Homo sapiens: one gene and its partner. The protein of the gene in region 1 interacts with the protein of each later gene in a pairwise test. Each region holds a gene or a part of one and is shown in the gene's direction. Other genes may lie near its edges.

Region 1 (3,820 bases):
AAAATTTAATCAAATATCTGGGGGAAGGAGATTATTTTATATAAGTTGAGGTGCACCTTAATGCAGGAGTCTTGTACTCAGATAATGATATTATTTTTCTGAATATTTTGAAAACAGTCGAGAATCGTAGAATCTGGTTTACAGAAAAAGTATAAATATTTCTGGTAAGAAGTGACATTTGATTAGGAATACTAATTTTAATTCTCATGTTAACTCTTATTAATTGAGACATTAAGTATACTGTTTTTTTATAGTAGCTTTTGTCCTTTTTCCACTTGGTGGGAAAGTATTGTTATGGAGCTGAACAGAGTAAGCTTTGCTATGATGATAATACTTGTTGATATTTAGAATGTTCTTTACTTTTAGTTAAACATTTAATTTTTGATTCAAAGCAATTCCCTTTTAAATTGCTTCTGCAATTTAATTTAATTTAATGGCTTCCACATTCAAAGCAATGTGGGTCTGATAATCAGTGTATTTAAACATTTCAATAGTTTTCTTTCACCTGAAATTTAATATTGTAGCAATTACTGAATTTAGGAAAATTGGTAGGTAGTTGCTATCAGCACCGTTACTACGGGAATACATTAGAATGATTAGCTTTTAGGTGAAATTGAATTTTTTCTTTAGTTTCCATAGTGACTGAAAACGATTTAGGTCAGCTTCACCTGTTGTGCCCCTCCCCCTTTTCAAAATAAGAGGAACATTTAATTTAGCACAATGATGTTAATTTTTTCCTAGTAGATTGATGAAATGAATGTGATAATCTCACTCTCTTTACCAAAAGAATAATCCAATATATACATGTATGAATTTTGGGGGAATATTTCAGACTTTAGAGAACATTATAGGATAAAAAATAGTACCTAAATATCTTATAAAAATCAGTGTTTTATTACATCACTGAATTTTTCTCTTTTAAATTTAAAAATGTCAAATTTAGGAAACATCTGTGATAATTTAAAGAATAATTTTTGAAATCTGCTTTTGCTTTTCACCAGGTGTTCTTCTGCTATAGGTTAGGAAGCAGTAGTTAGGCAACACTAATGAATAATATTCTTGAGAGTGAGAACTAGAGCTTCACAAAGAGAATAGGCCATCTCTCATATTTAGTGGGGCATTTAATAGGTAGATAAACTGAAAATTTTTGCTTTCATTTCTATGTATTTTTTGTTAGTATGTATTTATTTACTGTAGGTACCTCACATTCTGTGCAAAAAAAAATTTTTGGAAGTAACTCAGTGGTTTCCTTTATCTTTTTTGTTCTCTTTCAGAGGCTTGCTTATATAAAACTACAATTTAGAGAACCATCGGCCGGGCGCAGTGGCTCATGCCTGTAATCCCAGCACTTTGGGAGGCCGAGGCGGGAGGATCACCTGAGAGGCAGGAGTTCAAGACCAGCCTAGCCAACATGGTGAAACCCCGTCTCTACCAAAAAAAAAAATACAAAATTAGCCAGGCATGGTGGCAGGCGCCTATAATCCCAGCTACTTGGGAGGCTGAGGCAGGAGAATCGCTTAAACCCAGGAGGCGGAGGTTGCAGTGAGCCGAGACCACGCTATTGCACTCCAGCCTGGGCAACAAGAGCGAAACTCCGTCTCAAAACAAACAAACAAAAAAGAGAACCATCAAACTCTGAATGTTGTTTCCTCTGTAGTATGAAGTGGTTATTTTCTTCCCTTTTTGACTGGCCATTTTTTTTTTTTTTCTGATAAAGTGGCTTTTAAACTTTTCTGATCATGACCCACTATAAAATACATTTTACATTGCTATCCAGTACTCAGACACATATATGTACATATTAATATTTGAAATCGAAACAGAAGTTTCTTGAAACAGTATCTTTACTACTGGTGATGCATTGTAATATTAATATTTTCTATTCTATTTTGTTTGTTTGTTTGTTTTTTGAGACAGGATCTCACCCTGTATCACCTGGGCTGAAGCGTAGTGACGCTATCACGGCTCACTGCAGCCTCGACCTCCTGGGCTCAGGTGATCCTCCTGCCTCAGCCTCCCAAGCAGCTGAGACTACAGGTGTGTGCCACCATGCCTCACTAATTTTTTTTGTTTGTTTGTTTTGTGTTTTATAGATGCGGTTTCACTGTATTGCCCAGGCTGGTCTTGAACTCCTGGGCTCAAGTGATCCTCCTGCCTCAGCCTCCCAAAGTGCTGGAATTATAGGTGTGAGCCACTGTGCCTGGCCTCTATTTGTTTTATTGTTTTTAATTTAAAACAAACTGCTGGTTTCCATTCACTAAGTTGATATCAGTGCCGTTACTACGGGAATACATTAGAATGATTAGCTTTTAGGTGAAATTGAATTTTTTCTTTAGTTTCCGTAGTTAATGCAATGTACCTGCAGTTTGCAAAATTTTAGTGACTGCTAGATCTTTCCCCTAATATTGTCTTTTTGTAATGGAAAATGTTTAGGTTTGGGGCCAGGTGTGGTGGCTCATGCCTGTAATCCCAGCACTTTGGGAGGCTGAAGTAGGAGGATCACTTAAGCCCAGGAGTTCAAGACTAGCCTGGGCAACATAGCGAGACCCTGTCTCTACCAAAAAAAAAAAAAAGAAAATGTTTAGGTTTGCTAGTTTTTTTCTCTGCAATGTACGTGGATGGATTCTGTAAAACTTAACCTAAATAGCTGCAGAACAATCATTGAGAGAGGGAGGTCCTGTTGCCCTGATTACCATTACTGTCATCCCTGTTCTTTACCATTTCTAGGCACATTATTTTAAAAACTTATTTTGGAATCGTGAGGTTGAAAATGCTCGGTTGTATGCTGAGCTTCTATCGTTAGAATCCTTTGCTAGTTTCCATCTAACAGTCCAAAGTTTAGGTCCTTTCAGTTGGTTTTCACAAACCTTGCTTCTGTTCTTGGCAACTAGTCAAAAGGTTACAAAGCTGCTTTATTCTGCTCTCTTCTGGCCCAAGTCCAGTCTTTGTAAACCAAAAAAAGAGGACTGAGGAATGAAGCAGTTTGCTCATGTGTATATGGTCAGGTGAAATAACATGACTGAAGAGTAATTAGGGTTTGCGACAGTGGATTACATTTATGTATTGTCCCAATTCGTTTCCTGTAATCACAAAGGGGGAAAGGGCGTAGAAATATCAACAGTTCCTTGCCTATCCTAGCTGGTAGAGTGAAACAGGGTCAGCAGACATACTCTACTATTTTTATACCACTACCTGCTCTTAACACTTAGTGAGCACTTACTATGTGCCAGGCACTATTTAAAGCACTTCACTTGTGTTAACTCATACTCATACTTGGGAGGCCTGGGGAAAAAAAATGAGAATGGTAAAGGATAAAGAAGAAGACTTGCCATCTTCTCGTATGTTCTCATTACTTGGCTTAAGAATTCTGGCTGTTGATGACTATAGTATGGCATATCATACATTTTAAGCTCAGTCAGCTTTTAAATATCACCAGTCCTGTCTGCATTGTTCCATTATGAGACACATAGCTGTGGTTTGAGAACTCAGGCTTTGAAGCTAGCCTGCCTGGGCTCGAATACCAGGTTGGTGACTTACTATGTGTATAGCATTGGGGAAGTTACTCTCTGTGCCTTAGTTTTCTCATCTGTAAAATGGTGATAATAACAAATAGCTTCTATTTTATAGACTTATTGAAAGATTAAAATAATTAATGTATTACCTGGGCATGGTGGTGCATGCCTATAATCCCAGCTACTCAGGAGGCTGAGGCATAAAAATTGCTAAACCTGGGAGGTGGAGGTTGCAGTGAGCTGAGATCATGCCACTGCGCTTCAGCCTGGGTAACAGAGCGAGACTGTCTCAATTAAAGAAAAGAAGA
Region 2 (3,820 bases), on another chromosome or scaffold:
TTTCAGCATTCACAGGGGTGAAGAACATGGGCTTCAGGCTGACTGCAGGATCTGCATCCTCCTTTCAGCACTTGGGACTCACCGCTTAACTGCTCTGGACTTCAGTGTCCCACGTGTTCTGTGGGAGAGTCGTCACTGTTCCATAGGGTTGCAGAAATACTGTAAGCAAAGGGCTTAGGACAGGGCTTGGCATGGAGTGAGTGCTCTAGAGTGGACAGTCATCCTTACTAGTTGTAAAAGTAGAGGTAGTGCTCATGTGGGGGAATGAATTGTTGGAGGAATTTTTCAAACCAAAGAGAAGCCAGGTTACTGTCAGAATAGTGGGATGGCTGCAAGACTTGGAGCTGTTTCTCCTAGTGTCTGTGAACTGTGAGACCAGGAGTACATGAGGAGTGAGGCAGTTGAAGAAATCTCTACTCCCATTGATAATGTATCCCTTTCCCAGAGATTCGAGTGTCTTGCAAAAATAACAGCTTCAGCCTATGTCTTCACTCAAGGATTCAGGCATGTATGATCTGAGGGACAGATATTTGGCAACTTAAGTATTCCCTGCTGCTCAATATGGCTTTTAGAAGAGAATGAGCAGAAAACAGCAATACTTCACAGTGATAATGTCTGGTGTGGCCCAAATGACTCACTAATCAATACATCATGGTGCTTCTCCCAGGCTGGGTTACATTTCCTGGAATCAGAAAGAGCGAAAATGTTCCTTCTGAAGATTCTTCAGTTCTGAGAATGCTCGTTCTATTACCCACACAAAATGCAAGCATCAGTCCACTTCCCATAGAAAGCAAACACAGTGCTCATGTGAATCTTTCTCATTCTCTGCAGGATACATACTGCAGTACTCCGAGGACAATAGTGAGCAGTGGGGGAGTTTTCCAATCAGCCCCAGCGAACGTTCCTATCGCTTGGAAAATCTCAAATGTGGGACTTGGTATAAGTTCACACTGACAGCCCAAAATGGAGTGGGCCCAGGGCGCATAAGTGAAATCATAGAAGCAAAGACCTTAGGAAAAGGTAGGTATGCCTTCTCATCGCTTCTTAATATCCTTTCTTTTCCCGGCCAGAAGAGGAGATTGGAATCATAAAAGATCCATCATGTTTTACGTTTATGTGTTTGAACTTTGTCATTCCTCACATGGCTTCAGCAGTGCCACGGCATAATGAGAGGGACAGCTGGACCTTCCAGAGTGTTCTGGTCCTCTCTTTTATTGTTTCATTTGCAGTTAAAAAGAAGAATGTCAGTTTGAAAATCAAGGGCGTTGGTGTGAATGTGAGGTGCCAAGGCTGGGCAGCCATGAAGCGTGGCGCTTGCCCTCTCAGCCGTTTGGAGGCGCCCTTCTCCCTTAGCCACCCTTGCTCCCACCTTCCTATCATTTCCACATTGCCACATAGCCACCGCTTTTCAGAGGGAAAATGATGGGGTAAATTGCGTTTGTTTTTTTTTTAATCTAAAATGTGGACTTTCAAGGAGATGAATCCCAAAGAAATCATATTCAGAGAAAGAGGTTTTGTCCCAGGAACTCCAGAAGGAAGGAGGGATGATGCAGCTCTATGTGGGCATAGGAAGAAGGTGAGGAGATGTCTTTGCAGGCTTCCCTCCCATAGGAGTCCTACCAGGTGGGGTGGGGTCAGATGGCAGGAGAGCGAGTAATGAGATAGCAAGGGTATTATTTGTGCCTGGTGCCACAGTTTTGGGTAACAAGTGGTAAGAGGTCAAATGATCGGGGATTGATTTATGCAGAAATATATCCTTTAGGTCCCTGGGCACCAAGACCAAGTGTTTAGTTGTGGAGGAAAATCTGTTGGTGCTTCCCAAATCCAACTCTGTCTTCTCTTGAATCAGGTTCATCACATGAGGATGGAAAAAGTGCCCAGCACACTGCCCCGCAAACCACAGAAGGAAACCCATATGTGAACATCCTATTGTTCTTTAGGGAACTCTAAGATACCCCAAAATAACCTCCACCCATGCAATTTTCTGTCACACACCCAGGTCATTACAGTTGGAGAAAGCCTGTTGGTCCATAAAGTCTCTATTAACAGGGGACAAGTTGCCAGTGGCCTGTGAGCCAGACTTGGACTGAGCTCCTGGCCTCGCTGGAGGAAGCAGTCCGAGGGAAATGCGTGAAGATGCTGATGGCCTCCCCATGTGTCCTGTGAGCTGACCTCCATGTGCCTTCTCCCCCAGAGCCCCAGTTCTCAAAGGAGCAGGAGCTGTTTGCCAGCATCAACACCACACGCGTGAGGCTGAACCTCATTGGCTGGAATGATGGCGGCTGCCCCATCACCTCCTTCACACTAGAGTACAGGCCCTTTGGGACCACAGTTTGGACCACAGCTCAGAGGACCTCTCTCTCCAAGTCCTACATCCTGTATGACCTGCAGGAAGCCACCTGGTATGAGCTGCAGATGCGGGTGTGCAACAGTGCGGGCTGCGCGGAGAAGCAGGCCAACTTCGCTACGCTGAACTACGATGGCAGTAAGCTGGCTGGCTTTGTGGCTCTCCTGCTTGTGTCTTGGGGGATGTGCACGTGGGCCCTGCCCCTTTCCCATCGAACATCATCTTTGCCATAGTTTGACCAGTGCCCACGGAGCCCATTAGGCTTTCGGGATTCAATGGACTCTGTCTGGGGCTCCCTAGTTCGTTATATCCAGATGACCATCACTGTGTGTCCAGAAATAAGAGACTCAGGGCCATAGGGAGTCTCACTGGGGAGTCATGGGGCAGGAGTGATTTCTCTTAGGGCTGAAGGACTCTTGACCCTGTGGTTCTGTGCTTGTGTTGATGTCTATGAGCTAACATTGCTTTTGTTGTCTCCCACCCCTTTCCCCACCTCATCCCAATCCACATAACAACTTTCTTTTTTGCACTCATTACACCCTAAACTGCATGTGCAAAAACAATTTTCCATGGTAAAGGAGCTTATGTTAGTCTCTGGGCAGGAGCAGGGCCACTGATGGAAATAGGATAATAATAGGAATCCATGAACACGTGCACACACACAAACTCACACACACTTGCCACTTGCATTTACTTTCCAAAAACTAGGTGAGGTGTCTCTTGACATTAGTTAACCAAAAATAAATGGTTTAAAATCTCACTCATTTTTTCTGGTATCAAGGGCCATTTATTGCTAACTGAACAAATGCTAAGCCCAGTGAAGCTGAAAGGAGCGAGTCCTCGACTGCAACTTAGTAGGGGAACTTTAGAAAGTCCCAGCAGCAGCGGGCTGATGCTCATTTCTCACTAGGGGAACAGCAAGGATTGAGTTAGGTGCTCTAATTGCAAGGTAAAAACGGCAGCAATGCATCAGGATGAGTTGGAACTCCAGTGCAACTCTCCTCAGAGCCTTCTATTCACTGCCTGTTGGTCAGGCTAGACCACAGTGTTGAATGAGTTAACCAAGAAACACCCAAACCCTTTATTGACAGCCAAGCCAAGACCACGTTGGAAGTGCTCCTCTACCTGTGGGTGATGCTTTGTGAGGGGATGCCTTTCAATGAAGTCACTCATAACTGAGGGCTGTAAAATTAGACAGAGGCAGCCCATGAAAAGCATCAGCATTGCTCTCTAGGAGAGTGATTCTTTCTTTACTTTGTGCATTTGGGAGGCCGCTTTATTAAAGCTCCAGCAGGTAGCTCCTTGGAGCACAGTTTATGCCATCCTAAGAAGAGTGGCTGTGAACCTAAGGACCCACAGAAATGACCACCAGGAGCTAATGAGGTGACATTGCCTGGGATTTTCATCGGACCAATTTCTCCTATAATGTCCGGATGGCCCAGGGCTGGCTCTTCTTGCTTTGGCACACAGAGC

What was found.
Region 2: the proteins of EYA3 (region 1) and DSCAM interact in a two-hybrid assay, tested with the Homo sapiens proteins (one large-scale study listed by BioGRID and IntAct).

What each region holds. Positions count from the first base shown.
Region 1 is NC_000001.11:28,078,549-28,082,368, reverse strand, and holds part of EYA3 (protein phosphatase EYA3), read left to right. Parts: intron 1-1,917; exon of another isoform or gene 1,918-2,037; intron 2,038-3,820. UniProt on the Homo sapiens protein: Tyrosine phosphatase that specifically dephosphorylates 'Tyr-142' of histone H2AX (H2AXY142ph). 'Tyr-142' phosphorylation of histone H2AX plays a central role in DNA repair and acts as a mark that distinguishes between apoptotic and repair responses to genotoxic stress.
Region 2 is NC_000021.9:40,077,352-40,081,171, reverse strand, and holds part of DSCAM (cell adhesion molecule DSCAM isoform CHD2-42 precursor), read left to right. Parts: intron 1-831; coding exon 832-1,020; intron 1,021-2,194; coding exon 2,195-2,485; intron 2,486-3,820. UniProt on the Homo sapiens protein: Cell adhesion molecule that plays a role in neuronal self-avoidance. Promotes repulsion between specific neuronal processes of either the same cell or the same subtype of cells.